6 separate regions of the Homo sapiens genome follow, and regions 1, 2, 3, 5 and 6 are each reported to be linked to region 4. Evidence: microRNA targets listed by miRTarBase, many of them from high-throughput screens and not tested one by one. Region 4 holds a microRNA gene; each other region holds the end of a gene's coding sequence.
Evidence for each region. Region 4 holds the annotated microRNA hsa-miR-424-5p (CAGCAGCAAUUCAUGUUUUGAA, at 2,884-2,905, opposite strand). A microRNA usually pairs through its seed, bases 2 to 8, with sites in the 3' UTR of a target mRNA and lowers its output. Matches are read on the target gene's strand: a 7mer-m8 pairs with bases 2 to 8, a 7mer-A1 pairs with bases 2 to 7 and ends in A, and an 8mer does both.

Region 1: miRTarBase lists RECK as a target of hsa-miR-424-5p. Seed matches in the 3' UTR shown: 8mer at 3,570-3,577.
Region 2: the mRNA of SNX16 is a reported target of hsa-miR-424-5p. Seed matches in the 3' UTR shown: 7mer-m8 at 4,243-4,249.
Region 3: the mRNA of DMTF1 is a reported target of hsa-miR-424-5p. Seed matches in the 3' UTR shown: 8mer at 4,375-4,382.
Region 5: the mRNA of PDCD1 is a reported target of hsa-miR-424-5p. Seed matches in the 3' UTR shown: 7mer-m8 at 990-996, 7mer-m8 at 993-999, 7mer-m8 at 996-1,002, 7mer-m8 at 999-1,005, 7mer-m8 at 1,002-1,008, 7mer-m8 at 1,005-1,011 and 2 more.
Region 6: the mRNA of IER2 is a reported target of hsa-miR-424-5p. Seed matches in the 3' UTR shown: 7mer-m8 at 3,544-3,550.

Annotation. Positions count from the first base shown.
Region 1 is chr9:36,122,360-36,127,432 of GRCh38, reverse strand. It overlaps RECK (reversion inducing cysteine rich protein with kazal motifs), which reads right to left. Exons shown (of 21, transcript NM_021111.3): 21 at 2,978-4,609. The coding sequence ends at 4,388. Among named protein-coding and RNA genes, the nearest start is that of GLIPR2, 12 kb to the left of the region's middle.
Region 2 is chr8:81,797,073-81,802,145 of GRCh38, forward strand. SNX16 (sorting nexin 16) reads right to left here. Exons shown (of 8, transcript NM_152836.3): 8 at 2,511-4,521. The coding sequence ends at 4,425. Among named protein-coding and RNA genes, the nearest start is that of SNX16, 43 kb to the right of the region's middle.
Region 3 is chr7:87,194,587-87,199,659 of GRCh38, reverse strand. It overlaps DMTF1 (cyclin D binding myb like transcription factor 1), which reads right to left. Exons shown (of 18, transcript NM_001142327.2): 17 at 4,832-4,976; 18 at 3,335-4,629. The coding sequence ends at 4,520. TMEM243 (transmembrane protein 243) reads left to right here. Exons shown (of 4, transcript NM_024315.4): 2 at 603-653; 3 at 1,615-1,719; 4 at 2,902-3,500. The coding sequence ends at 3,024. LOC105375384 (a long non-coding RNA gene) reads right to left here and starts at 1,942. Exons shown (of 2, transcript XR_927722.3): 1 at 1-1,942.
Region 4 is chrX:134,543,797-134,548,869 of GRCh38, forward strand. MIR424 (microRNA 424) reads right to left here and starts at 2,915; the gene lies at 2,818-2,915. It overlaps MIR503HG (MIR503 host gene), which reads right to left and starts at 2,834. Exons shown (of 3, transcript NR_024607.1): 1 at 2,756-2,834; 2 at 918-1,001; 3 at 1-203. MIR503 (microRNA 503) reads right to left here and starts at 2,602; the gene lies at 2,532-2,602.
Region 5 is chr2:241,846,682-241,851,742 of GRCh38, reverse strand. PDCD1 (programmed cell death 1) reads left to right here. Exons shown (of 5, transcript NM_005018.3): 5 at 446-1,859. The coding sequence ends at 685. Among named protein-coding and RNA genes, the nearest start is that of PDCD1, 9.7 kb to the left of the region's middle.
Region 6 is chr19:13,152,983-13,158,055 of GRCh38, reverse strand. IER2 (immediate early response 2) reads right to left here. Exons shown (of 2, transcript NM_004907.3): 2 at 3,145-5,073. The coding sequence starts at 4,869. The coding sequence ends at 4,198. It also overlaps the pseudogene RPL12P42. Among named protein-coding and RNA genes, the nearest start is that of IER2, 5.1 kb to the right of the region's middle. RefSeq lists enhancers at 384-493, 831-920, 1,221-1,370, 3,881-3,970, 4,031-4,914 and 1 more and silencers at 1,731-2,000, 2,211-2,530, 4,141-4,250.

The sequences.
Region 1 (5,073 bases), not on the chromosome of region 4:
CTGCCTGCCTCAGCCTCCCAAAGTGCTGGGATTACAGGCATGAGCCATCGCGCCCTGCCTAAGTGGTTACACTTCTGTTTGGCAAAGCAACTGGTTGCATTTGCAGTAGAGTTCAGTGGGAGATTGGTCTGGAGAAGACAGAGGAGGTGGTCTTTAGGAAAAGACCCACCCCCTGATTACCTGGTGGGTGTTGGCCAAGATAGGGCTTCCACCTATGAACCTTTAGGCAAGGATGTACCGCCCAGTAGACAACATCCCAAATATGAAACCGTTTCCCTCAATTTCCCCGCACAGGGCAGTGAGGTAACCACCTCCTCCCCATTGCAGACAGAGGAGGTACCTTGCCCTGATTACAGAGAGAGATAGATATGTACAGAGAAGGCTCTAGAAGGATTCTGCACTTATTTGTAGAGGCAGGGAGAGGAAGGTATGGGATTTTTTTTCCTTTATTTATATTTCCAAGTACTTGGGGGAAGGTGCACACGTAACTTTTACAAGGAAAAAACAATACAGTGAACTTCATTTTGGAATAATGGAAAAGTGGGTGGAGCCAGGGGACAGAGTGTTCACCCTGTGAGGCTTCCTTCCCTACCCTCTCCACCATCAGCCTAATGCCCTGAGGCTGGGCTCTAGAATGAAACTCAACCTTAGACTTGGCATTTGCTCTCTGTGTGAGGCGTTTTGCTTTGGGCCGGGAGACAACATGGTGAAAAGCACTCCCTAAACTGCCCTAGAAAGTGAGCTGGCGAACTGTGTCAGTTACTTTTTATGATTCCTGATGCTCCTTGAACCTGTTTGCTCAGACCCACCCAGGCTCACCTGGCCTTGGAACTGTTTCACTCTGCTCACCTTCTGGCATCTACCTTCATGGCAACCTCCTTTATGGCCAGTTCCATTTCTGAGAAGTACAAATCCTGCCTGGCTGCCTTGTGCCAGGGAAAGCCTGGACCTGGCCTCTGGCCGTGGCTTCACCCTGACTCCCTGTGTAACCACAGCTTGGTCCCTGTACTCTTGGTTTCTCTCTGTGTGCACCGTGGAAATCTGCCCTCCAGCCCCAAGATTGCTGGACTGCTGGAAGGACTGGCTCATCCCTGGGAATGACGCCTCTGCCTTCACTTTCTCTCAGCTTGCAAAGTGCACAACTCAAGCCTCTTCTGCAGCTGGGAGGCAGGGAAGGAAAGGCCCCTGCAGCGGGGCCTCCTGTCCCTCTGAGAATTAGAGCACCCTCTGTGGGAGTGTGTGGGCCTGACTCCCATCAGCCCAAGGCTGAAAGAGAAGCATTGAATCAAACGAAGGAAAGTGCAGTTTCTTCAGTGACGATCAGTGTTCCTGGTGGGTTTAAGTTTCCTCCCACAGTGGAGCTGAAAGAGACCCTGGCTGAACTCTAAGGGTGGGGACCAGGCCTAAGGGAACCCTGGCCCCCAGCCTGCTCAGTTATTATTTCCTCAGGAGAGTCCAGGGTGCTCACAGGACAGAGGGAAGCACTGCCTAGTAACAAGATCAGTGGATGGTCTTGAAGGTCTCGTGGCACTGAAGTTTGGGGCACACAATCCTTTGCAGGCTAGAGCTATCCAGGCTGGTCAGTGTAGCTGGAAGGGCAAGGGCAGAGGCTTAGGATGCCACTGTGGCCTGGCATTCAAGCTGGGCACATCGGATCTGCCTTATACTTCCCCACACCACGCCCCTCACAACATGTCAGCCCTGCTGTTCTACCCCTGGAACGGACCTGGACTCTGTCGTTTCTGCACCTTTGCTCAAGCTGTACCTCCTACTTAGAATGCCTTTCTCAAAGCCATCTGGCAAAGTCTCCTGGTTTCTTCCAGGCCTGGTGCAAACCAACCCTCTTTTCGAGGGCTTGCGTCTTCCCCCTTGTTAGATGCTCCCTCCCCCAACTCACACCTCCCATGGCAGGTTGCCTGTACCATTTGATCACCTTCTCCAACCTGTCCTATTAAACGCCTTGCATTTTCTTTGAGATGGGTTCTTGCTATGTTGACCAGGCTGGAAACATCTACTTCTCTAATAAAAAATCTTGTCAGTCCTGGCTATTGTCCTAGCCTGATGAGAAAAGATGTCTATGGTAGACAGTGTTATTCAAAATACTTACTGTCCCTCCCCCAACACACACAAAACACCGTGGGAGGACTGTATGTCCCCACCCTTTGAACTCTGGAGTGGCCATGTGACTTGCTTTGGTTAGTAAAACGTAGAAAGAAATGACAGCATCACTTCCAAGCAGAGAATTCAGGGCCAGCTTGTGGTCCTCTATGTCTCTTTTCTGCCCTTTGTGAGGACGCTGGAATGGGTCTGGAGTGAAGATAGTATCAGGTGTGGCAGCTGACCCACAATGGACATGTGAAGGGAACAAAATAGAAGCCTCTGTTGTAAGCCACTGAAGTTTTGGGGACTTAGCCTAAGCTGATTGGTACCACTTCTCTGGTCCCATCAGCAGCCCTCCATCTCCATATTCCCATGGTCTCCCTGCCCCAGGTGTACCCTGGAACTGGAACATCAGGACCAGCACAGTGGGGAGAACTGCCTAGTATGCAGTCTTGGAAGGCCTGAAGCTCTCTCTGTCCTTAAGGCTGAAAGCTGGGGTCTTTGTATTTGACTCTCTGTCACTGCCTGCCCTCTGGTCTGACCAACTGTGTCCTAGCTGGCCTGTTCTCCCAGGGCCCTTGGCTTGGGATAATAGCACTCCATGACTTCTTTTTTTTTTTTTTGAGACAGGGTCTCACTCTGTCTCAGGTATGAGACAGGTTGGGGTACAGTGGTGTGATCTCAGCTCACTGTAACCTCCACCTCCCAGGTTCAAGCGATTCTCCAGCCTCAGCCTCCCAAGTAGATGGGACCACAGACATGTGCCACCATACCCGGCTAATTTCCATGACTTCTTATCCCCGAGCAAAGGACACAGCTCACCTAAGGGTGATCAGTGGTTTCCTTTTTGAATGTCAACATTGCTTAGAAGCATGCATGATCATATAAAAATTATTTTTATTAAAATAGAAAAGCTTTCCAGTATATTGCATTAAAGACATTTATACAGAAAAAAGGCAATTGCAACAAGCATGCTACATCAGCACTGACATATTCTGAAAGCTTTAAGTGCCCATTTTTCAGCAACATTTTGGTATAATACGCATATCCCTATGTATTTCAGAGGGTACATATAATACTGAAAAAATACTTCATGTAAAATCTAAGTTCATGTGCATACACACAAGAAGTATTACATCAAATAGCTTATTTCAAACTGTGAAACACATTCAAAGTATTCAATTTCTTAGACAACATGCATACATTTTAATACTCAGCTTGACACTTTTAAATATATAAACCACAATTCTTTATACTTCTATATCAAAAAAGAAAGTCAGACAGAACACTTATCTACATTGTGCATATCACAAAAAGCAAATGTGTTTTCACGAATGGAAAGCACTGGGTTAACACACATGATTGTCATTTTACAAATATGGCTATTCACCTTCTTCATAATAAAATAGAAATATAATGTATTATTTACATGAACTACACATTATTTCACTTTTTGGCAATTATATAAGTAGCAGCAATTGGTTTAAAGATTGATGTTTAAAAACTCTACATTTAACTTGGATGAATACCGATGAATATATATCTGGTTAATATAAAAATTGCATAATGCAAGATGCTTTGATGCAATGTCACTTCTCCCTTTCACAAAAGTCACAGACACAAATCCGTGACCAGTGAGCCTGTTGCTTACAACATATAATTATATGAGTGTCATTTAATCAGCTTGCTTTTGCATAACACAGTAGTTGGGGTTCTGAATTAAATTTCTGTAATTTAATGCAAATTTGCCTGATAATTTACATAATTTACATAATTTCAAAGATGTTTTATCTATGTTTCATATTCTTTAATGGCAGTGGCTCTTCACTGGGACCCCTAGCTTCTAGCCAGAGTAGGTAATTATCTGTAAACAAAACAAATGCAACGGGAACCTTAAATACTTCAAAAAGAACTCTGAAATGAAGTTTGTGAACCTGATAGTACAGTGAATTATCTTTCTAAAAAGTGGTCATCTCATTTCCCAGCGATAAATTTGCTTTAGAGTGGGGGACCCTTATGGTGAGGAAATGTAAATCATATGGCAGTGGTCTACCAGGAAGAGACATTCTGTTTTCATTAGTATTTGGAACAACACATTTTAACATTTGTAAAAACAAAACAAAAATCCTACTAATATTGGCGGATTAAAAAAAAAAATACTGTGTGGCGAATAGAGGTGACATGTGCCTTTCCTTGGCCAATATTCAACTACAAACCAGCAGTCCTGAATGTCTTTTTCAAGGCAGGAGAGTGAGGTGGAGGAGCATTCTGCACTTTCCGTGGGCAGTCAGTTATATGTCCAGAGCAAGTGCAAGGCAAGGCCCAAGCTGAGGGGAAGGAGGAGGGAGTGGCAAGAAGGCCTGGCCCTGACACCGGCCGATGGCACACTGCTGGAGACCTGTACCTGGGAAATGATGAGGGCAGAGAGAGGGACATGGGACGCCAAAGTCGGGCTGTCAGAGTTGATAAGGGACTCAATCTTCTCTGCTTCTTTATTGCAGGCTTCAATCTGTGAGGAGAAACAAGGTTCCCTTAATATAAAACCACAGAACGTTTTCAACATCAAGCCAGACAAATTCCACGTATATCCTAAAAGTAGCGTGGCCTCAGAGGGCATTTACTTTCTCTTTGTCCTTCTGTTCTTATCCAAAGTAACATTTTATTATAGTTTTAGTTTATTACATAAATATAGCAGCATTAATGGAAATCAAACCAGAAAAGAAATAATTGGCCATGTGTTGTGGCTCATGCCTGTAATCCTAGCACTCTGGGAGGCCAAGGTGGGAGGGTAGCTTGAGCCCAGGAGTTCGAGACCAGCCTGGGCAATGTAGCAAGATCCCATCTCAAAGAAAAGAAAAGAAGAAAAAAGAAAAGAGAAAGACAAGAAATAATCCACAATGCCACTGCCCTAATCAATCAACTGTTTTCATTTTTCCACACCTGTTACCCACACCTCTTACCCACATTTAGACT
Region 2 (5,073 bases), not on the chromosome of region 4:
ATTATAGAAGCGTGGACTAGCAGATCAGCTAATTCTAGAGTCCTCCAGAGTTATAGGTTTAATAACCGCAATGTGGGGCTTTACATTTCACACCTTAGCCACTATTTGACTGCTGCTAATGTCTTTGATTACAGTTAGCTAGGCTGCAAACATTATTTAAGGTCTATACTTACTCTCAGCATATCTATTATAATAAAACATTATTGAGTATACATTGGTTGCTTTGCTTATTATTTTGTGTGGAGATGACACTGATCTAATATTCTGTAAATTATTTACAAGTGACAAGTGAGGTCTGTTCTAATTTGAGGCTGAAAACCATGATCATGACTTCATACTGTGCTCTAGTCAAAAATCCACCTATAGCTTACCATTAGCTAGCATTTCTAAGTGCATTCCACATTCAGTGATCTTCTTTCAAGGCTTTTTTTTTGTTTTTTGTTTTTAAATAGTATCTCACTCTGATGCCTGGGCTGGAGGGCAATGGTGCAGTCACAGCTCACTGCAGCCTCACCTCTGGTGCTCAGGCGATTCTTCCACCTCAGGAGCTGGGACTACAGGCACAGGCCACAACATCTGGCTAGTTTTTTGTAGGGACGGGGTTTCTCCATGCATGCTACCCAAGCTGGTCTCCTGAGCTCAAGCAATCCACCCAGCTCGGCCTCCCAAAGTGTTGGGATTACAGGCATGAGCCACCGCACCTGGCTCCCAAAATACGTATGTTCTAATAGAACGACTTAAATAGGAAAAAAAATTGAAGAAGATAAAAAATAAAGTCATGATTACAACAGAAAAGCATAACCATACAAGTGAACTACAATTTGGCCTAGAGCTGCCCAAAAGACAAAGAGGAGCAACAAAGAGAGCATTAGACTCTTTAAGATGAAAACGAATCCCAAATGCCCATCAAGGATAGACTGGATAAAGAAAACGTGGCACATATACACCATGGAATACTATGCAGCCATAAAAAAGGGATGAGTTCATGTTCTTTGCAGGGACATGGATGAAGCTGGAAACCATAATTCTCAGCAAACTAACACAGGAACAGAAAACCAAACACTGCATGTTCTCACTCATAAGTGGGAGTTGAACAATGAGAACACATGGACACAGGGAGTGGAACATGACACACTGGGGCCTGTCAGGGGGTGGGAGGCTAGCGGAGGGATAGCATTAGGAGAAATACCTAATGTAGATGACGGGTTGATGGGTGCAGCAAACCACCATGGCACGTGTATACCTATGTAACAAACCTGGATGTTCTGCACGTGTATCCCAGATCTTAAAGTATAATAAAAATAAAATTAGGGAAAACCACTAAATAGAAAAAAGAGAGAAAAACAAATTAGGCTGGTCACAATGGCTCACACCTGTAATCCCAGCACTTTAGGAGGCTGAGGCGGGTGGATCACCTGAGGTCAGGAGTTTAAGACTAGCCTGACCAATATGGTGAAAGCCTGTCTCTATTAAAAATACAAAAATTAGCCTGGTGTGGTGATGTGCACCTGTAGTCCCAGCGACTCGGGAGGCTGAGACAGAATTGCTTGAACCCGGGAGGCGGAGGCTGCAGTGAGCCGAAATTGCGCCACTGCACTCCAGCCTGGGTGACAGAGCGACTTTGTCCCAAAACAAACAAACAAACAAAACAAAAACCACACAACCCTCCCCTGAAACTCAACTGTTTAGGAGAAGCACATGTTTTGCTGAGATCAAGACCCAAGAGAAGTTTCTCCTATGGGTCTTCATAAAAGGTACACTATGTGATATATTTAATAGTAGCCATTAGCCTTAAAAACACATGTATTGAAAATATATGTTTTGATGACTGTGTTTGCTATTAGGAGCCAACAGCATAGAAACAAAGCATAATGCAGTAACAGTAATTCTATGAAGAGCCAAAATGTGGATCAAATATGTAGCTCTCTGAAGATTTCCTAGAGGATAAAATTTAGATTCTTCTGCTAGTTGGGAAAACAGACTTGTTTTATCATAATCCCCAAACTCATGTGTTCCTATAAGTAATAAAATCCATTTCAAAACCAAATTATTTTTATATCTAAAGCCACTGTTCCCTTTTAATATCACAGACTGAACTAGACTACATAGATAATTTATCTAAGCATGGTTTTCTAAATAAATGTGCTGTAAATGGCTAATCTCGATGTAGTAGATACATTTTAAAATGCTGTTTTATGGTTGTACTAACTATATGTAAACTTATTTCTAAAAGGTTAAAAGATTATCCACAAAAATGTTATTTCAGTTACATTCAATTTTTAGAATTATTAGTATAGGTTATGTTAAAGTGCATTGCACCTATTCACAAAGACTTTCAAAAAATGATCAGCAATATAAAGTGTAAACCTAAAAAGAAAATCAGACTCATTCTACATCTGTGAAATTCAGCACTTAAATATAATTCAATTTACAATAATTGTAAAAGATAGGGAGAATATAGAAAATGGAGGGGGAAAATGGTATTCAACATATGAACAACACAGCTACTGTTGTAGTGAAAAAATAATTTATTAAATGAACATAATACTGGGAGTAAAATGCATTATAAAAGTAAAAAAAAGTAAATTATAAATATAAATAATAGTGGTTTACCTAATTAACAGATTTTTTTCTTCATCCTTGAAGAACTTTAAATACAATCTTCCAAAAAGCCAGATTGAAAAAGTGGCTGGTTCGCTTTAGAACAGACAGGCAACACTATAATATCTAGAATTTGGCAAAGATCTGTTATATAAGATACAGAATGGTACTGATTAAATGATTGTTCTTTTTAAGCCTTTTGTAAGTCTAGAATAATAATTTTAATAAATAAGCAGATCAATTTATTATATTCATTTCTGTCTCTAAGGATAGCAAACATATTTCTGATACACATTGTGAAAAATGTTCTGAGAACATACCTGTGCACTTTGACAGACTAAAAATTTTTGGTTATTTGGTAAAAAGTGATCTCCTTTTTACTTCAAAGGTTAACAACAGCCATTGAATGTGTTGATATATGTCATTAGAATTTTAAACAGCCACACCTTAATATATATATACATCAAGATACCGATAAACTTTTAGATAGTAAAGAAAAAAATGGAGATTGTTATTCTATTTCCCCAGTAAGTTTCCCTCAGTTTTTAGAAAGCATACCGACTGGGATTGCAAAATGCCAGCATGATTACAATGCTTATTAACAGCAATATGCAAAACAGTGAAAATAGAAAATAAATAACTTCATCCTATAAAAATGAAACAAGGCACTTTTAATGACTGTACACAAAGCTGAAATAAACAAACATTTTTTCATAAAGCTGACTCAAAGACCCTAGGAGACTTTTGTAGAAAGTGAAATAGTAAAGGCACTACATAATTCTTTCTCCTAACTCTACTTACTAAAAAAATCCACCAATTAAACTTGGCACAAAAGAGTTTAATTATCATAAAGTGCATCACTTGGCTAAATATATTAAAAAGAAAATCAGCCATAATACAGTATAACAACATCTTCACACAAATAGAAATAAAAATGCAATGTCAGGAGTCAAGCCAGTTAGGAACTTTGCAGTATATATGGCTTTTTATTTTCTTTTTTGTATAAGCCCCTATTTATTTAGAATCTATATTTTCGAAAGAATATGCCTTAACAAAAGGAGGTAGTATTCTGAAAGAGGCAAACTCACTAAATCTAGGTAGAGATAAAGATTACGTGGAAACTAAACAAATGTAACATATTAATAACTGTGACACTTATTAAAGTATTTTGATATTAATGAATCAGCTTTTAAAATCAAGGCTATCTTATCACTTTAGCTATATGATTACAGCTCTTTCAAGTAGTTTTCCTTTGGTACTAGAAAGTCATTTTTCTAAAGAGCATTAACATTTCAAATAAGCAAATTTTATTTAGAGATGTAAACATGTAAACATTAAAAACTCAACTAAATTTTATCTTTATTATGATGGTCACTGATTTAAACTATTAATGAAAATATGTCATGTCAGAGATATAAAGAAGAATATATCACCCAGATAGTAACATGCAATTAATTTCCATTTGATTAATATAATTGGTGATTTAACACACATACATATATACACAGTAGTTTGGAGCAATATATAGGCAAAACACCATAATAATTTATGCACAGTATTTAAGAATGTGGGCCTTGATAACAGAATTCCAACAAGATTTTTTTTAGTGTATTAAATGTAATTGGATAAAATACAATTAAAAGCAGCAGTGAATATATTTCCTATCTCAATAACTTAAAAAAACTTCTTTATGTAAACTTTATACATGTGCATTCTTGCTCTTTTCTATATGTTTTACAGTTCTTGGTTCTTCTTTTAAAATAGTATTTGCCACTCTTCTAAATTTTTGAATAGTCTAAATGGAGGGAACTGCTTGTGATACATTAGTCTTCTTCAGCATCATATGCCACTTCTGCTACTTCTATCTCTGATACAGCATTTTCAGGTTCACTAAAACTTAAGCATGGTTTATTATCAGCTCTGCAAAAAAAAAAAAAAAAGGAACATATCAATGATGGGACTGGATGCATGCTATTATTTCATTTTCACTATTACCTTTAAAAATCTTCTACCTTATAGAAAATTTACATACTTAGTGTAAAAGTATTTAATGTAAGAGTATTTAAACATTCAATCAGAAATTTGATATATTTAAGTTGTCATTGCCAAGTAAGACCTTTGGAGATAGGTTTTTAAACTCAGCTCTCCAAACTACCATTTACCAATAAAAATCTACTTGGTAATTACCTTTATCAACATAAAATTTTTCTCAGAATTATAGTTGACCATTACCACTAAACTATTAACAATTACCTTGGATTTGTATGCAATAAAAATTCTATGTGCTTTTAAATTCATTACCTTTTCATCATTCCTATTAGGTAAGAAGGGTGGTTTGCTATTATATTATAGTAGCCTACTTTTTCAATGGAAAAAGGGTGATATTGAGGGAGATTAAGGTAATCTGTCAATATTTAAAAAATTAGTTAATTACCTGAGTCAGAGGCCAGTTAATGCAGACACAGCTCTAAA
Region 3 (5,073 bases), not on the chromosome of region 4:
TCTTCATTCAACCAATATTTTGTTTATATACTAAAGCCCTTCACTATTAAATAACTTGGAAAAACTACTGGACTGGATGGTCTCTTAAGATTGCAAGTGCCAAGCCTTGGCACTCTAGGACCCATCCCTTTTAACAGTAGCATCTATTTTTAGACTAGACAAGGATACCTAAGCTGTATTACAAATATAGTTCCAGACACATCATGGTACTCTACATCTAGTCCGGTTCCTGATACCTTTAACCAATGCTCTGGCCTGGCCATTCCTGCAGTGCCTGTCCTTCTCCTTTGGCTTATGCTATCCTCAGCAGCACATGCATTATTTGTAAGCCTCCCTTACCCATTTGATACTACCCAATCAAGACTCTAGTATAAATGTTCTGTCCCTTCAAGAAACCTTCCCCAGTTGGCCATTTTCCCAAAGTACATTTTCCACTCTTATGGTTCAGTACACTTTGCTTTGTCTGGTAGTTTTATGTGTAAAGCTCAGAGGACTGGATCTTGGGTTTCTTTATAGTAAACCATCCAAATGCCTTGCATTGTACTATACTGAAGGTAACATGGATCCAAGTCATATGGCTTAAAAATTCTTTTCTCTTTCAGGATCGAATCATCAATTTAGTTGTTGGCAGCTTAACATCCTTATTGATTCTAGTAAGTATCCTCATTTTGTGCCTCACCCAGGCTCTTAGCCAGTTTTGAAAACTTTATCAATTATGGTTAACTTTCCAAAAAAAGCTAAATAAGTGCTTTTAATTTTATTACCACAAAATTGCAGTTGCTAATTGGAGTAGCTAATTTAATTCTGCCCCACCCCCAGGTTGAATATGTGAAATGGTACAAGTCAGACAACTTCGTTTTAAGATAATTGAGTTTACCATGTTTTGCCTAGTAAATTTGTAAAAATGTCAGTGGCTAGTAGCCACTTCCTTCTGTCATCTACCATAATTCCCCATTTCTATTTTGTTCCTGAAGAACATATCCATTACCCTTTGGTCAAGTTTTAAAAGATTTGGTCACAGTGTATAGTAGTTGTACTGTATACATCCTGTATACAGTATACATCTGGGAGCTATTACAATAAAATTTTTAAAAGCTGTATTTTCCATAGTTTGACATTTTTCTGGCACATTAAATTTAAGAGAATTTTTTTCCATGGCTTCTTAATGAAAAGATTGCATATAATGCTGCATCTGTTAGAAACAGAACTATACAACATTAGAAGTCTTTCAGTGTGTTTCATAATGTTATAGCAAAACCAGCTTTGATTATATTCATTTTGCTAGAAATATTTAAAATAACAAAATGGCTAGAACTTTTACCAGCAGAATCATTAATCCTGGGAGTGAGGTTTAGTTAATGAAGTTATTTTGGCATCAGCTAGTATTACTGATGTTTTCTCTCCTTTCATAAGTAAGGGAAAGTTTAGAAAAGAAGTACTAAAATAACTCGAACATATTTATAATTACTGTATTAACATTCTAGAAAGCAAACTTGGTGGCAGATGTAATTTTATAACATGAAGCATTTTGTAGTACTGTTGCCTAGACTCCAGTTGGTAATTACCAAGTCTTGGAATTACTGTTAAGGCCTTACATAATTTCTCTTCATACAGGTAACGCTGATAAGTGCTTTTGTTTTCCCTCAACTACCTCCAAAACCGTTGAATATATTCTTTGCTGTCTGCATCTCTTTGAGTAGTATTACTGCCTGCATACTTGTAAGTACTGTTGAGAATTTAAACAGTGTTCTTGAGGGTTTAAGTTGCAATGCACAGGACAAAAATTTTCAGCCTTGGGTCTATACAAAAGGGTATCTCTTAATTATATCCTCATCCTCCCCCTAAAAGTATGTTAGAATTCTCAATAAAATCTGAGTCTTCTCCTTTTCTCCTAAATCCCAAAGTTGTAACCCCAAAGAGAAATTCCACTCCCTTGATAGCTTAAAAAAAAAAAAAAAAAAAAAAAAAAAATTAGTGGAAAGACGTAGGTGGCCAAAGATTTTAATTTACTTAATTCATCTTCACTCAAGGACTACGTAAGGGCCAACAGTCTTTGGGAAATGCCAGTTACTGCTAAGGGAAGAGATAGAGCACTCTGGATTTAATTCTAATTATTACAAAATTAGTTTAATCTACATGTTTGTTTCCCAAAATGGAGGTATTAACACCAAAACCTCCTGGGAAATCTAAAGCTGCAGTTGTTGTAAAAATGTTTGATTTACTGCAAATGTTTCTTTTATGGTGAAGAAACAAAGATGGTGGTGGCTCCTCAGTGTTCATTCATTAGTTGGCTACATTGTTTCATGTTCCTTTAGAGGCAGAATCAAAAGAAAAAACAATAGTAATTTGCTTATCTGAGTTAAAATTAATTAAACCAGGAGACACCTCCAAGTGTTCTCATTCACTGATCCTGCTATATACTCCCATGACCCGAAGAAGAACTAGCCCATCCCACTTTGGGAGCTTTCCTGTTCCCCTAGCTTGAAGCCTAAAGTGACTAACAGACAATGAACTAGTTTAATCCAAATATATTATGGAAGCCCTATTTTACGGTCTGAACCAACTGTATGAATCATGAGTCTAAATGTTGTCTTCCTTTCCTGTTAAGTAGTATGCCCAGGTATATGTTCTTGGATAGCTTGCCAGATGACTGGTGGAGTATACAGGTGTGAATATAGAGGAAAGTAAACTGAGAAAGTAGGAATAAGTATGATCTTGGATGTGGAAACTCAGAGTAAGAATTAAATTCTGGCTGTACTGATCTCAGGAATGTAGAGACCTCAGAATATGGAGAATGTCTGTCTCATTTAGGGGAATAAACAAATACTAATGAAATTTGAAATTGGTAGAGAAAATGTTATATTTCAAATTTTAATTTATAAACTTTAATTCTTCTTTTAGATCTACTGGTATCGACAAGGAGACTTAGAACCGAAATTTAGAAAGCTAATTTACTATATCATATTTTCTATCATCATGTTGTGTATATGTGCAAACCTGTACTTCCATGATGTGGGAAGGTGAGGCTGCCAAGGAGAAGTACTTACCAGGACTCTTCAAAATGATACATTAGGACAGTGAGTAATTTTTGGATAAGGTATGCTGAAGAATCTCCTGCAGAAGTCTGATACATGATTTTCATGTTAATTGTAAATGTTAATTCCCTCTTGCAAGGGAGACATATCCTAGATCACTTTGCTTTTTCTTTAAGGAGCTGATGTTGCACCTAAACATTCCAACCCTTAAAGCTAAAACAGCACAAAAAAATTTCACTTTTGAAATGAAATTTTTATAATTGTATGGCAAAAGGCTATGTAAAAACAAATCTTGCATCTTAAGACAAATATTCTTTTATTTCTGTTAAACTGAATATACAATTGTTCCCTAGGCAACCAACTTTTGCTTATAACTACAATTTAATTTCACGTTGACAAAACACAGTGAAAAGACAACTTTGTGAAGATCTAATTACAATAATAAATAAAATAATTTATACAAGGGTTTTTTTTTCTTGACTTTTCTATAGGGGTCATATTCATTAAAAAGCCCAAAAGGCTACCTTTGCCTTAACCCTTCTGTAGTACAGGAATGATTCTTAGATTTGTTTCCTTTTGTTATAGAAGCAAATATTGTTTTTTTAAAATAGCCTGAGATGAGAGGTTATATTGTACCCCACCAGCTAACACACTAAGTGGATGACAAACTATTCTCTCGGTAATTTATATAGCAAAACATCTAATAAATGGTCATGGTATCAAGGATAGGTAACATTACTTCCTTCCTCATTTAGTTTTACTTCAAAGTGCTAACTTTGTAAACTAATGACAGTGGTTTCTGAGGGGGTGAAAACTGCTTAGATTCTGGTGGGTTTTGTTACTATGCTTATCCATATTCCCTTTAAAAGTAACAAAAAACCTGTAGTGAATTTTAACTTTTAATGCTTTCCTGTTTACCCTGCCTAAATCAGCTCCCACTGCCAGCAATGGGTTAACCAAATGTACCACCACAAGACCACCTCCTAGGTCTCTATACTTGTATGCTGGTCAAGTCTCAAACTTAGTCTTCTTGAAGATCAGAAGATCACTGGTAAGCTCTAGACCATGTTGAAGACCATGTTGAAAAGACTCATCTGAACTACAACCAGGCTTGAGAGGAGACAGTGCCATGTCTGATCTTTAGAGAAACTGTACTTTAAACCACAGCAGTTAAGCTTTCGTGATTCTAAACTTTTCTTAGTGGCTGAAGTGAATGAAATTCCTTATTCCCATGTAACACTAAACAGGGATTTATGCTTAAAACTCCCAGCCTCCACTCAACTACATACTGTCATAAAACTCAACCTCAGATGATGTGTTTAAAGGAGGTAAAAAGTCATAGCAGCAACAATGTGTGTGGCTTAAGGACTGTGGCTATTTAAATTGGTAAATTAAGCCTCTTGGGGGTTGCTCCTATTTCTTTGAAGAGGTTGTAATTAACAGTGTGCCTTCTTTGCTTGAACTGCCTATTTCTAAGAATTATTCTAATGACAGTTTACCAAATCTTCGACATCCTTTGAATCTTCTGAAACAGGACTGCCCAAGGATGATCCAATGATATTTGATTCTTCCTGATGATGTTGGAGTATGGGATCTGTAATGAGTTTCAAGTTAGTCTTAAATGTATATATTTATTCTCTAATCCATGTCAAGAATTTAAGGTATTCTACCACAGTGTAGAACTCAACAGGACTAGTAGCTTATTGGATCAAGAAAGACTGAAACAAGTTAATTAAATGTCTGTTTTTTTCCATCTAAAATTTATCAGGCACATAGTAAGTATTATATTACAGTACCTGTTAGTGTTGTCAAAGGCAAGACAGATTCAGTATCTATAACATCAGATGCCTGGATAAAGCCATGTGGTGAAGGAACGATAAGTATTGTTTCATCATCAATTGTTTGATCAACTTGTTCTTCTATAGTGGGAGACTCTAAACCCTAAATAACATTAAAAAAAAAATATTGACTCATATTCTTACTAGTCTTCCTTAAAATCCCATGTATAGGTATGTATAGGTTAGACTTAAACATAACC
Region 4 (5,073 bases):
GGGACACTTGGGTGGTTTTCAATGCCTAGAGTTTTAAAATGCATATAAATTACAGCCTTTGAGAGATGATTGTATTTTCTTGAAACAGGAGTCTTCTGTGTCCAGGTCCCCGCCAACAGTGTTGATGTAGTGTTCCTTTGTTGGGGGGAAAAAAAATCAGTACTGCTAACTGGAGATGCTGGATGCCTTCAAGAAAAACATTCCTGTGATTTAAATTTTTAAAAAATTATGTTCAATTCTGGTTTATCAAACAACCTGGGTATCTTGTCTCACAACTTACCGAAATGTCGAATTTTAGATTTAGAGTTAGACTAAGCTCTTCCTAGTTTAAGGGCCACGTCTGTCTAATAAACTTTATACAATGCCACGTGCACGCAGCTTCCTCACTAACAAATAACATGTGTTGGGGAAAAAATGAGAAAATAGTGGAAAGGTGCCTCCTTGGAGGTGGTAACATCGGGTCAATTAATCAGCTGAGTATAAATTGATTCACTTTATACAAGTCTCCCACACATTATGATGCACATTTAGCAACGCTGAAAAACAATTTAAAAGAATACCTTAGGGAGTTGTTAAAGAGAATTTATAGTCTGGAACGAATTGCAATCTTCTTAATTGACACAGAAATGTTTGGCTAAAATATTGCTTTATTCACATTTTTGTCCTTGGAGGAAAATCTAGGCACACTGCAACTTGGATCGTGTAAATAAAGGTACAAGGAATGTTTTAAGTCAGAAAAGGGCATCACGCAGTCAGGGGGCTGTGTGGACGAGCTCAATTTCGATGCATCTCGGGAGACCCGGGCAAAAGGCCGCTTGGATTCCGGGAGGCAACGCCCCCAAGTCAGGATCCCTTGCTCGCCGCCCCCAACCGGTCAGGATCCCTGGCTCGCGTCCCCAACCGGTTCCGTGTCTCACCTGGGTCCTGCAGGCGTCCACTGGAGGAAGCCGGATGGCGCGGGCTTGGTCTTTCAGGAAGGCTGGCTGGCACCGGGCTTCCTTCTGGCTCCAGGGGGAACCGTACAGGACGGGGAGAAAGGGGGAAGCTGGTGAGAGGCAGAAGGGGCGTCACAAGGTGGCTCTCCCACCCCCAAGTGCAAAGGCAGGCGGATGCGGGGACCTGTTCGCCGTTTGAGCCTGGAGATTGCGGGCCTGAGGGGCCCTGCGCTGGCCGGCCGGGGCGAGGCGGGAGCAGAATGGGGATTTCTAGGCCGCCGGGTCGGGCTGGTGGGCGGCGCCCCGGGAGCCTGAGGGTCCCCGCCGGCCCGGGAGGGACCCGAGCCGCCCCCGCGCACTGCCCCGGCGCAAGGGAGTCTGGGAGAGCCAGCGTCTCGGGCCGCTGAACCCGACTCCCAGCTCTAGACTTCGGAACCCCGGCCCCACCCCAAACTGGGAAACTTCTAGGGGCCCACTCCTGGCCCCGGGAAGCCCAGTTCCAGGCAGCCCATTCAGACCAGAGGAGTTTGGGTGTCTTTTTTTTTTCTTTAAGGTGACAAAAAGTGTGGGAAAGATTCCACACCTCCCTCCCCACGCCCGCCAATGGTCCTTTACCTGTCCATGTTTCAGATTAAATAATTAGCTCAAGAGATTTGCACAGAAAGCGAATTAGCCCTTTTCTAGTCAGACTGTTAAGCTCTCAGGCGGGCAACTCGGAACCCCGTTTCCTCACCGAAGGCTCAGGAGGCCAGCCCAGTGAGGGATGGAGGTGGCTTTAGAGGGCGACAGTTGTGCAGCACTCATGAGCAACAGTGCCCAGGACTTTTGAAGTCACGAAGGGCTCCTGAAATCGACAGCTCAGGTCCCGCCCCTGGGGCGACAAAGGAGTCTTGGGGGCGTGCCGCCGGGTTGGAATTGTGGTAGCAGATTTTTGGGGGAGGAGGGCGCAAAGCAGCTAGAAACGCACATCCTCATTCTGGAACTATCCCAAGGCCCCCATGCTTCTCAGCAGGCCTCGGGCTCAGATTGGGCGGGTTGGAGCCTTCCACCCCACCTTGGGTTCACCCGCCCGCAAGGCCTCGCGCCTCACCCGATCCTTCTAGAGTGCTGGAGCTCCACGGAGCCTCCCTAACCCCCCAGCAGCGGGGAAGGGAGGGCGAGGGAGTGGGGAAGAGGCCCGTTATTTTGATCTTTCCTGAATTCTTAAGTCCCTTCCATACCCAGGACATGAGCGCGTTTACCAGGAACCGCAGAGAGGTGTAAAGACTTCTTGCAGCTGCTCACCCTTCCTCTCCCCTTACTCCTTTTCCAGTCCTCCCCACCCCCCAGCATTTCGTGGGTGGGGACTGAAGATAGGTTTTCTTCGTTGTCCTGTGGGTGGTATTCTGATTGGGAAGGGATTTTTTTCAATTGTTTACATTCTACCTGAGCAGGGAAAGGGGGTGCCAAAATGAAGCATCATTCACGTCCAGTCACATATGCAGAGACGGGGCAAACGTTTGATGCAATCTTGGGTCTCGCTGCTCCCGGGGCCGACACCGCAGGCGATGGCCTAAGACTTACCTGCTGGGTAGGCCCGAACGGCAGTCCCAGACTTACCCTGGCAGCGGAAACAATACCCCAGAGCACCGATCGCTCACTGCAGAACTGTTCCCGCTGCTAGGGCACGGCTGAGCGCGGGCACCGCGTCTCTCCTCGACTCGCACCGCCTATGCGCCCCAGCCTAGCCAGGAATACTGCCCTCCCCGGACTACAGCCCTGCTGCGTGGACAAGGGCGAGGACCCGCCGGAAACAGAGACGCGAGCCCCCGCCCACCTACCTGCTCCTGAGCCGGCCTCGCGGGGAGCGGGCACCTGGTGGCAGGAACACGCGTCCGGCAGACCCCACCTTCTACCTTCCCCACGAGGGGGTATAGCAGCGCCTCACGTTTTGAACCATTTAGAACACTTCAAAACATGAATTGCTGCTGTATCCCCTCGGAGTCAATGAAGGGGGATCGATCTGGGGGTACCTGCGGGTGAATAAAGACTGGATGACTGAAGGAAGCCCCGCCCCACCCCCTGGCAAGGAATAGGGCAAAACTTATGACTAGGCCACTTCACTCCAAGTTAAGGTACTTCTTATAACTTCACCATTTGATTTCCAGGAGCTGCAGGTGGAGCCGAAAGTGTGGCTCTCAATTTTTTCCCCTGAGGATGAATCTTGGAACAACGTAGTGGGTGAAAAGCAGAGCGATGGGGGATACGAATTAGTGTGGAAGAGAATCTAATTACTTCTGAAGGTAGACGAATAAGGTTAAGTAGAGGCAATTGGACATCTGGATCATTCTTGCCAGTTTCAAAGTCTTGGTGAAACTTCTTCCTGCTGCATATTACAAGTCTCATTCATTGTCCCCATTAAAAAAAAACAAAAAACGAAACAAAAAAACAACCTTTATTGGAAATGGACTCAGATGACTGAAAGAAAATAACCAAAACCTCACCGGTAGCTTCAGCTGATTCTTACACTATCGTTGCGACATATACATCTATCTTTAAAAGCATTAGATGTCCTAACTCACTGCTAGTGTTTTTATTCTTAAACACCCCAGCTGAGTTATTTTAAAGAGCTCCAAACAATGACAGAGAACTTTCTGTAGATGAAATACCAGTTTACATATTAAACTGGTTACTCAAACTTATTTATAATTTATACCTATCAATGTCATCTATCAAAACATAAATCAAAAAGTTTAAATACTTGATGTCAAGTCGCTCCTTCCTGTTTCAAGCAGCTCCACAGAAACTTTCATGTCCTGAAATGGCCGGCACTGCGCATACTCCTTAATGATTAACTCATTAGATACCACTTTTTCCTTTTTAAAATGGACACATATTAGCAACAAGTCACATGCATGCCCTCTTTTTGTTTGAATACAATATTCAATTAAGCATTAAAAAAAAAACCCACTCTGAAATCCTCAATCACAAACCTAAAAGTTAAAACAACAAAATCAGCACTAACTGTAATGGTTTTGAAAGTTAAATACATTTCAGCACAAGTAATAGACATTTAAATTATCCAACTGTAAGTATCTTGTTACACTTACAAATTAAGTCGGTTTTTCAAAACCAGTACAATGAATGTTAAGTGTCCTATTTATTAGTTAATAAAATGTGCAGAGTATTTAATAAGATTAAGTATCGAATTTATAACATCCAGACTGAGATCCAGTGGTAACAAATACACTATGTCATGGTAAAAAAAAAAAGTCATTAGTAACAATAACCCCATTCCCTAAATTGCGACAATCAAGTATCTCTACATTCCATCTTGTTTTGGCAATGATATTTACAAACAACTTTTACACTGACTTTGGGATTAATGGAGAAAAATGTCGTTGACTGCCCTTAAAAAGAAAAAAAAAACATGTTTAGCAAATGTACAATTATCATGTAAAACTCCACAACTTTCTCCCAACATTTTGTTCCACACAAATATACGAGCCATCATGTCAGAAGTTAAAGTCATGCCTAATTTAACATTTCCTTAGTTGACTACTTAGAAAAACAAAAGTTCATTCGAAACAGCATCGGTGTCAAAGGCGAAGGTCCCTTCCAGATTGCTCTTGGAATCAAATTCATTTATACCTTTCACCCTAACCCCTTTCATCTCTCCCAGTGATAGTACAACGAGTTACACCCCTAAAAAGCCACCTCGATCCCCTAGTTTACATATTTCCCCTTAGACTGAAATTTACTTACGAAAAGAGATTACAAAGGGGCGTCTTGTCACTTCAGGAGAGGGTCATTCACTGATACAATAGACAAAGAATCGATACTTTCGAGTTGCCATAGCCCCACCCCCTTCTGAACTGCAATGTGTTTGGCTAAATGATTTAAGAGCCAAAGAATACGCCTCTTCCTCTGTTCATACTCTACAACGTTTTGTCTTTTAATTTTGCATATGCCTTCGTCCCCCACACCCCAAACACACGATGTACCTTCTCTCGGCGCATTCTAGCCAAACTTCCACAATGTCAAGTCCCTACGGGGAAAACTAAACAACCTTTAAAGTTTTAATTCGGGAGAGACAATGTGAAATTAATCACACATTTCTTTCCAAGACATAACTAACTTCTTGCAAATAAGAGGAAAA
Region 5 (5,061 bases), not on the chromosome of region 4:
GCCCATGTGTGTGCCTGCCTGCGGTCTCCAGGGGTGCCTGGCCCACGCGTGTGCCCGCCTGCGGTCTCTGGGGGTGCCCGGCCCACATATGTGCCTGCCTGCGGTCTCCAGGTGTGCCCGGCCCATGCGTGTGCCCACCTGCGAGGGCGTGGGGTGGGCTTGGTCATTTCTTATCTTACATTGGAGACAGGAGAGCTTGAAAAGTCACATTTTGGAATCCTAAATCTGCAAGAATGCCAGGGACATTTCAGAGGGGGACATTGAGCCAGAGAGGAGGGGTGGTGTCCCCAGATCACACAGAGGGCAGTGGTGGGACAGCTCAGGGTAAGCAGCTCATAGTGGGGGGCCCAGGTTCGGTGCCGGTACTGCAGCCAGGCTGTGGAGCCGCGGGCCTCCTTCCTGCGGTGGGCCGTGGGGCTGACTCCCTCTCCCTTTCTCCTCAAAGAAGGAGGACCCCTCAGCCGTGCCTGTGTTCTCTGTGGACTATGGGGAGCTGGATTTCCAGTGGCGAGAGAAGACCCCGGAGCCCCCCGTGCCCTGTGTCCCTGAGCAGACGGAGTATGCCACCATTGTCTTTCCTAGCGGAATGGGCACCTCATCCCCCGCCCGCAGGGGCTCAGCTGACGGCCCTCGGAGTGCCCAGCCACTGAGGCCTGAGGATGGACACTGCTCTTGGCCCCTCTGACCGGCTTCCTTGGCCACCAGTGTTCTGCAGACCCTCCACCATGAGCCCGGGTCAGCGCATTTCCTCAGGAGAAGCAGGCAGGGTGCAGGCCATTGCAGGCCGTCCAGGGGCTGAGCTGCCTGGGGGCGACCGGGGCTCCAGCCTGCACCTGCACCAGGCACAGCCCCACCACAGGACTCATGTCTCAATGCCCACAGTGAGCCCAGGCAGCAGGTGTCACCGTCCCCTACAGGGAGGGCCAGATGCAGTCACTGCTTCAGGTCCTGCCAGCACAGAGCTGCCTGCGTCCAGCTCCCTGAATCTCTGCTGCTGCTGCTGCTGCTGCTGCTGCTGCCTGCGGCCCGGGGCTGAAGGCGCCGTGGCCCTGCCTGACGCCCCGGAGCCTCCTGCCTGAACTTGGGGGCTGGTTGGAGATGGCCTTGGAGCAGCCAAGGTGCCCCTGGCAGTGGCATCCCGAAACGCCCTGGACGCAGGGCCCAAGACTGGGCACAGGAGTGGGAGGTACATGGGGCTGGGGACTCCCCAGGAGTTATCTGCTCCCTGCAGGCCTAGAGAAGTTTCAGGGAAGGTCAGAAGAGCTCCTGGCTGTGGTGGGCAGGGCAGGAAACCCCTCCACCTTTACACATGCCCAGGCAGCACCTCAGGCCCTTTGTGGGGCAGGGAAGCTGAGGCAGTAAGCGGGCAGGCAGAGCTGGAGGCCTTTCAGGCCCAGCCAGCACTCTGGCCTCCTGCCGCCGCATTCCACCCCAGCCCCTCACACCACTCGGGAGAGGGACATCCTACGGTCCCAAGGTCAGGAGGGCAGGGCTGGGGTTGACTCAGGCCCCTCCCAGCTGTGGCCACCTGGGTGTTGGGAGGGCAGAAGTGCAGGCACCTAGGGCCCCCCATGTGCCCACCCTGGGAGCTCTCCTTGGAACCCATTCCTGAAATTATTTAAAGGGGTTGGCCGGGCTCCCACCAGGGCCTGGGTGGGAAGGTACAGGCGTTCCCCCGGGGCCTAGTACCCCCGCCGTGGCCTATCCACTCCTCACATCCACACACTGCACCCCCACTCCTGGGGCAGGGCCACCAGCATCCAGGCGGCCAGCAGGCACCTGAGTGGCTGGGACAAGGGATCCCCCTTCCCTGTGGTTCTATTATATTATAATTATAATTAAATATGAGAGCATGCTAAGGAGTTCTGTCCTGTCTGGTGGCTGTGGGGGCAGTGGGCAGGAGGGAGGGAGGCCTCCAGGGAGGGACAAGGCGGCAGCCAGGCTGAGGCTGTGTGTGGAGGGTGCTGGTGGCTCCCCTGGATCCTGGCCTGAGTCAGGCCTTCCCCTCGCTGTCCCAGAAACACACAGGCCCTCCTCGCCCTGTTTGCCCCACTCACATGTAGAGCCCTCCGGTGAAAAATTCCTCCAACATCACGGGGCTGGGGACACCATCTTCCCCAAGCCCAGGCCTTTTAGGGGGGTCCCACGGCCCCCTGGCCCCAGGCTTCCTGGCCAGGCATGGGTGTCCCTGAGTGACTGTGCCTGCTCCATAGCCCCCGTGTCCCCATGCCTACCAGTCCCTCCGGGCAGGGGTGGTACCTGGTGCCAGGGCGTCCACAGCGGGGTGGGAGGGCTGCCCTGGGCTATGAGGGACACAGCATCTGCGGGTCCCTCCCTAAGTACACAGGGTGGGGGCAGCGGGGGAGGCGGGGTCACGTCTGCTGGAGCCCTATCACCCTGCTGCGGTCCTTGGCAGCTAGCAGCAGGGACGGTGCAGGGAAAGGAGCCCTGCCAGGCCCTCGGGCACCGCAGCCAAACACCCACTGACACCCCGGGGCTCATTCTCTGCTTGCCATCCTGGAGCCCAGTCCTGGACCCCATGCCTGTGTCAGGGACAGGCACAGAGACCTCGCAGCTCTGGGAACTCCCGGTGAGATCCGGCAGATCAGGCCTGGCAGGGAACGCTGCCCGGGGGCTCTGCACATGATGTGGGTTTCCATCCGCAAAACCCGATAGGTCCCATGGAAAATGACCACAGGCAATGAGAAAGCCATAGAGTGCTGCCTGTGAGATCAGCGTCCAGAACTCACAGCTCTCAAACACCCACTCACAGCGCAGCGCGCCAGCGTCCAGAATTCACGGCTCTCATTCATCCATTGACAGCGCAGCGCGCCAGCATCCAGAACTCAAGGCTCTCAAACACCCATTCACAGCGCAGCGCGCCAGCATCCAGAACTCACGGCTCTCATTCATCCACTGACAGCGCAGCGCGCCAGCATCCAGAACTCAAGGCTCTCAAACACCCATTCACAGCACAGCGCGCCAGCATCCAGAACTCACGGCTCTCATTCATCCATTGACAGCGCAGCGCACCAGCATCCAGAACTCAAGGCTCTCATACACCCATTCACAGCGCAGCGCGCCAGCATCCAGAACTCAAGGCTTTCATTCATCCATTGACAGCGCAGCGCGCCAGCATCCAGAACTCACGTCTCTCATTCATCCACTGACAGCGCAGCGCGCCAGCATCCAGAACTCAAGGCTCTCAAACACCCATTCACAGCGCAGCGCGCCAGCATCCAGAACTCAAGGCTCTCATTCATCCATTGACAGCGCAGCGCGCCAGCGTCCAGAACTCACGTCTCTCATTCATCCACTGACAGCGCGGCGCGCCAGCATCCAGAACTCAAGGCTCTCAAACACCCATTCACAGCGCAGCGCGCCAGCATCCAGAACTCAAGGCTTTCATTCATCCATTGACAGCGCAGCGCGCCAGCATCCAGAACTCAAGGCTCTCAAACACCCATTCACAGCGCAGCGCGCCAGCATCCAGAACTCAAGGCTCTCAAACACCCATTCACAGCGCAGCGCGCCAGCATCCAGAACTCAAGGCTCTCATTCATCCATTGTCAGCGCAGCGCGCCAGCATCCAGAACTCAAGGCTCTCAAACACCCATTCACAGCGCAGCGCGCCAGCATCCAGAACTCAAGGCTCTCATACACCCATTCACAGCGCAGCGCGCCAGCATCCAGAACTCACGTCTCTCATTCATCCACTGACAGCGCAGCGCGCCAGCATCCAGAACTCAAGGCTCTCATTCATCCATTGACAGCGCAGCGCGCCAGCATCCAGAACTCAAGGCTCTCAAACACCCATTCACAGCGCAGCGCGCCAGCATCCAGAACTCACGGCTCTCATTCATCCATTGACAGCGCAGCGCGCTAGCATCCAGAACTCACGTCTCTCATTCATCCACTGACAGCGCAGCGCGCCAGCATCCAGAACTCAAGGCTCTCAAACACCCATTCACAGCGCAGCGCGCCAGCATCCAGAACTCACGGCTCTCATTCATCCATTGACAGCGCAGCGCACCAGCATCCAGAACTCAAGGCTCTCATACACCCATTCACAGCGCAGCGCGCCAGCATCCAGAACTCAAGGCTTTCATTCATCCATTGACAGCGCAGCGCGCCAGCGTCCAGAACTCACGTCTCTCATTCATCCACTGACAGCGCAGCACGCCAGCATCCAGAACTCAAGGCTCTCAAACACCCATTCACAGCGCAGCGCGCCAGCATCCAGAACTCAAGGCTCTCATTCATCCATTGACAGCGCAGCGCGCCAGCGTCCAGAACTCACGTCTCTCATTCATCCACTGACAGCGCAGCACGCCAGCATCCAGAACTCAAGGCTCTCAAACACCCATTCACAGCGCAGCGCGCCAGCATCCAGAACTCAAGGCTTTCATTCATCCATTGACAGCGCTGCGCACCAGCGTCCAGAACTCACGTCTCTCATTCATCCACTGACAGCGCGGCGCGCCAGCATCCAGAACTCAAGGCTCTCATTCATCCATTGTCAGCGCAGCGCGCCAGCATCCAGAACTCAAGGCTCTCAAACACCCATTCACAGCGCAGCGCGCCAGCATCCAGAACTCAAGGCTCTCATACACCCATTCACAGCGCAGCGCGCCAGCATCCAGAACTCACGTCTCTCATTCATCCACTGACAGCGCAGCGCGCCAGCATCCAGAACTCAAGGCTCTCATTCATCCATTGACAGCGCAGCGCGCCAGCATCCAGAACTCAAGGCTCTCAAACACCCATTCACAGCGCAGCGCGCCAGCATCCAGAACTCACGGCTCTCATTCATCCATTGACAGCGCAGGGCGCTAGCATCCAGAACTCACGTCTCTCATTCATCCACTGACAGCGCAGCGCGCCAGCATCCAGAACTCAAGGCTCTCAAACACCCATTCACAGCGCAGCGCGCCAGCATCCAGAACTCACGGCTCTCATTCATCCATTGACAGCGCAGCGCGCTAGCATCCAGAACTCAAGGCTCTCAAACACCCATTCACAGCGCAGCGCGCCAGCGTCCAAAATTCACGGCTCTCATAC
Region 6 (5,073 bases), not on the chromosome of region 4:
CCAGCCTGAGCGACAGAGCAAGACTCCGACTCAAAAAAAAAAACCCCAAAAAACCAGAAAAACCCACAGTGGTGCTGTGAAATGCCCAGCTAGTTAAGAAGCACAAAGAAAAATATTTCAATAAAGGGTCATTTGACAACCGGTGGGAAAAAAAAAATTAGCCAGGTGTCGTGGTGTGCGCCTGTAGTCCCAGCTACTTCGGAGGCTGAGGCAGGGGAACTGCTTGAATCCGGGAGGCCAGGGTTGCAGTGAGCCGAGATTGCACCACTGTATTCCAGCCTGGCAACAGAGCGAGACTCTGTCAAAAACAAAAAAGAAAAGAAAAGAAAGAGACAAGGAAGAAAAGAGAGAGAAGAAGAAAAAAAAGAAAAATTAGCTGGGTGTGGTGGCGTAGTCCCAGCTACTCCAGAGGCTGAGGTGGGAGGATTGCCTGAGCCCAGGAGCTCGAGGCTGCAGTGAACTGTAATCAAGCCACTGCACTCCAGCCTGGGTGATAGAGAGACTCTAGTTGAAAGAAAGAAAGGAAAGAAAGGAAGAAAGGAAGGGAAGGAGGGAGGGAAAGAAAAGAAAGAAAGAAAAAGGAAAGAAGGAAGGAAGAAAGAAAAGAAAGAAAAAGAGAAAGAAAGAAAAAAAAAAGAAATTAGCTGTGCATGGTGCCTGAGCCTGTGGTCCAACCTGCTTGGGAGGCTGAGGTAGGAGGATTGCTTGAGTCTGGGAGTTCGAGGCTACATGGCTACACTGAGCCATGATTGCACTGAAAACTCTTGGCCTCAAGTGATCCTCCCACCTCAGCCTCCTAAATTTTTGGGGTTACAGGCATGAACCATGGCACCCAGCACATTTAGCATTTTCTACGTGCCAGCACTCTGCTAGGTTTGTTGTAAGGATTACATGTGTAATCTCAATCCTTACAACAAACCTAAAAGGCAGGGACTATTATTGTCCCCAGTATACGGTTGGGGAAACAGGCCCAGAGAGGTCAAGTGACTCACTCAAGGATGCATAGCAAGAAAACGAAAGTAGACCTGGTTGTTTCCCTCCCTCCAGAATATGTTCTTCTTCTTCTTCTTCTTCTTCTTTTTTTGAGACAGAGTCTTCCTCTGTAGCCCAGGCTGGAGTGCAGTGACACCATCTCGGCTCACTGCAACCTCTGCCTCCTGAGTTCAAGTGATTCTCCTGCCTCAGCCTTCGGATAGCTGGGATTACAGGCGCCTGCCACCTTGCCTAGCTAATTTTTGTATTTTTAGTAGAGATGGGGTTTCACCATGTTGATCAGGCTGGTCTCGAACTCCTGACCTCAGGTGAGCTGCCCACCTCAGCCTTCCAAAGTGCTGGGATTACAGGCATGAGCCACCATGCCCGGCCCAGAATATGTGCTTCTTACCTGACTTCTGCAGCTGGCCTTTGTCACTCAGCATCATGTTTCTGGTACCGAATTATCTGTGTGGCCTGTGTGTGTAGTTCTGTCTGGCTCCGGCCTTTTATCCTCTGGGGAGGACCCATCTGGGAGGATGGGCATGTAGGCTGTGCTGTTTGCAGTTTGTGCCAATTTAGTACAAGCCAGCAGCAAACACCTTTCTGGAGTCTCCTGCAGCAGGCTTGGGGTTCCCTGCTGGAACCTGCTGGTCACAGGATGGGTGACCTTTTTAGTTTTCACAGCCATTGTCCAATCAATTAGTCCAGGCCTCACCAATGTTATTTGCTGTGACAAGGTTCAATGCTGCCTTTTCTGATGGGTCCAGTGGGGTCTTGGGGATGGGTGTGTCTTAAGGGGATGTGTCTGTAGTGTGTTTGTTCCAGCCCCATCTTCAGTCCCATCACTTTCAGTCCCCAGCCCCACGGTGGCCGGGCACCGGAAACCCCCAAGAGGCCCGGGCGGGGGCGGGGGTCGGCCAAGCCGCTTCCCGCGGAAGGAAGGGCCCGGCGGTTCCTGCGACAGGATGCGCGGCAAGGCCCCCTCCCCAGGGGCCCGGGACTTCCCTGAGCCTTGCCACGCTCGCGGGGGAGGAACTCCGACGCGGGTGCATTGAGCTACCGCCTGCGGTGTGGGGCTCCAGTGCCCCCACGTCCCCTGGGAGAGTTGGGTGGGTCAGGACTCGGAGTAGGTGGCGCCTTTTAAAAGTCCCCCCACGTGTTCCCAGGAAGGAATCAGGCAGCCGTGGGGGCGAGCTTGGCTGGAGAACGGTGAGAAGCTCTCCTTCACAATCCACACAGGAGAGGAAAGGGGGTGTGGGTTGGGCGGGAGGGGAGCCAAAGCTCCCAGATTCCACCAGCAGACGTTCTGAGGCCGGCTTGCCCCTCCTTCTACCCTGTGGCCACGGGGTCAGTTCCCCTGGGGTCATGGGAAGCCTGCGGCGGCAGAGCCAGCCGTCGGCGGGGCGGGGCGAGCGCTTTCCCGGCGCCTGCCGCCGCCACCACTCCCCGCACCTGCGACTCCTTTGTCTTCCCGACAGGCCCCCTCCCTTCGCCCTGGGGCAACGCCCACAACCCCACTCTTAAACCTACGTGGGGTATATTGAAAGGGCTTTCTCGTTTCGGGGTGGTTATTCTAGAGCTGGGGAGTGACCCAAGAAAATAACTAGGGCTCTAATGGGCATTTTTAAAAACCTAATGCCGGGTGGAGAAGCTGCTTAGAGGCCCATTTCACAGATGAGGAAACTGAGGCTGCACGTCCCTGCCTGAGACACACAACGATTCCTCGAGGAAGATACGGGAACTGGGGACTAAAGAGCCCTTCAAAGCTCACCCGCTCAGCTCCACCTGATACTGTAGGGCCCCGGCCACAGCTGATTCAGTTTGGTCTAGGGGGTGGGGGCGAGATCTACCACCTTTCAAGGCTTCAAAGTGCGTGCAATCGATCCCCAGCTCCGCTTGGGGCAGTGTGTTTAGCACTATTGTCTCAACTCAGAAAGCCCCGATCTCCCTGTCCCGGAGTTGTAGGACAATTTCAAGGGAACCCCCAAATCTGGGGGAGGCGGGGCTCCACCAGTTAGGGAATGCCCGGGCAAGGAAAAGGGGGCCCAACCCTCTCTCGCCCACGTGGTAACCGGTCAGACCGGTTCTTGGGGCCCCAGCGAGCGGCTGCCAGCCCCTGACGCTTTAACCCCGCCCCTCCCCCACCACAGCAGAAAACCAGACAGCACCGGCTTTTTTACTCAAATGGTTTTTATTTTCCTATCTGACATTTCTAACAAAACGCCAGGTAGACGGAGTTAAAAAGAATCCACCGCACGAAAGGTAAACAAAGCAGACCCTCAGAAACTCCCTGGCAAGGATGTTCCCCTCCCCAGATTGGCCCAGTTTCACCAGCAACTGGTCTCAGCTCAGCCTTATGCCTTTCCACTGACACCCCCCACCCCTCCACATTCTCGTGATTCAGACCAGGAACTTCTCGGCTGATTGTGTCCGTGTGTCTGAGGGAGGGGCACGCTGGAACCTGGGAACCTACTGGGCACCTCTAATGCAGATGAGAAAAACTTGAGAATGTGAAAGTAGATCAGTCCCCGCTCCCACCCGAAGGTGCAGAGACGCGGGACATTAACCAGCAGCACGCGGGGGTGAAGTAACTCAGGCCACTCTCCTCCCCACTGCCCAGGGCGGGTGCACGCCCCAGGACCTCCTCCCAGGCCCCACACCCACGCAAGGCGACAGGAAGCTCCCCACGCCTGCCCCATGACGCAACGATGACCGCTTATACAAGTATGTCAGCGGAGGGGGAAGGGGAGTGCCTGGAATTCTCCGAGGTTGGAAACGCAAAACCAACTCTTGAAAAACCTTGAAAGGGCCAGCACAGCCCACAGTACAAAATGAAGTCCGACCCTGAGGAGATCTTTAAAAACAAACAAACAAACAAAACAAAAAACACAACACCCAAGCCTCCCTTCTCCCAGTCCAGAAGGAGAGCGAAAGGTTCACGTCCCAGTCCACTAAGACAGCACCTGTGGGCGCAGGTCTCTGCGGAAGGCGCCCGCGCCCCCGGCTCAGACTCCTCGGTGCCGTCCCTGCACACTGAAGGCGATGGCTCCCCGGGGACAGAGTCCCTCTCCGGGCCTCTCAGCAGCCCGGGCGGCGGCTTCTCTCCACGGTTTTCGCGGGCGCTTCCCCCAGGATGGAGGGGGGTGGCCTCGCCTCAGGTCTGCGCCCTCGGGCCGACGGTTCGACGCGCGCTCTGGGCTCCGGCAGCGCCGCTCGGGGTCCTCAGAAGGCCACCACGGCCCGCACGAGCACGTTGAGCATGCTGTCCGCCGGGCGGCAAGCGGGCTTTGCCTCGCACGCGGGCGGCGCCGTCGGAGGGGCCGCGGGGCTGCAGTTCAGGAGGCCGGAGAAGCGCCTCTGCAGGACGCGGGCCAGGTTGGGAAAGGCGCCCTCCGCTTGCGCCGGAGGGGGCTGCAGGCGATCGGCGACTTCGGATGACGCTCCCTCCTCTTCTTCCTTTTCTTCCAGACGGGCTTTCTTGCTCGGGACCAGTCCAGCGTCCCCGCCGTCGCTCAGGCTGCTGCTGCGTCGTTTGCGGCTGACTTTGGCGGGGCGCGGGGCACAGCAGGCGGAGGTCTCCTCGGCTGTCGGCGCCTCCTGCGTGTCCATTGGCTCCGGAAACGGGTGCTCACCGTCGGGGGTCGCTGTCTCGGCCGTGGACTCGGCTTCTCGGGGCGGGTGCAGGCGAGGGTCAGAGGGGAGGGCGGCCGGCAACGACACCTCGGGCTCGAGGGCCTCCACCTTGGCCGAGAGGTAGAGCTCCCGGGCGCTGCGCATGACCAGCGACAGCTGCAGACTCCGGTGCAGCCGCAGGCCACCGCGCTGCATGCGGGAGTGATACATCTTCCACACCGACAGGGTCATGATGCGCTGTGCCTCTTTCTGCACTTCCATGGCGACTCGACGGCGACAGCGGCGGGGGCTCCCGGGAGGGACAGAACAGGCAGCAGGTGCACTCCGGACAACGGGCTCGCTCACGCCTCTCTACACAAACCAACCCACGCAGTGACACTGCTAGGACGCTCTGCCCAGGCGCCCGCCACCCAGGCCCTTTTATACCCCCAGTGACGTCACTGAGACACCCCGCCCAACCGAAGG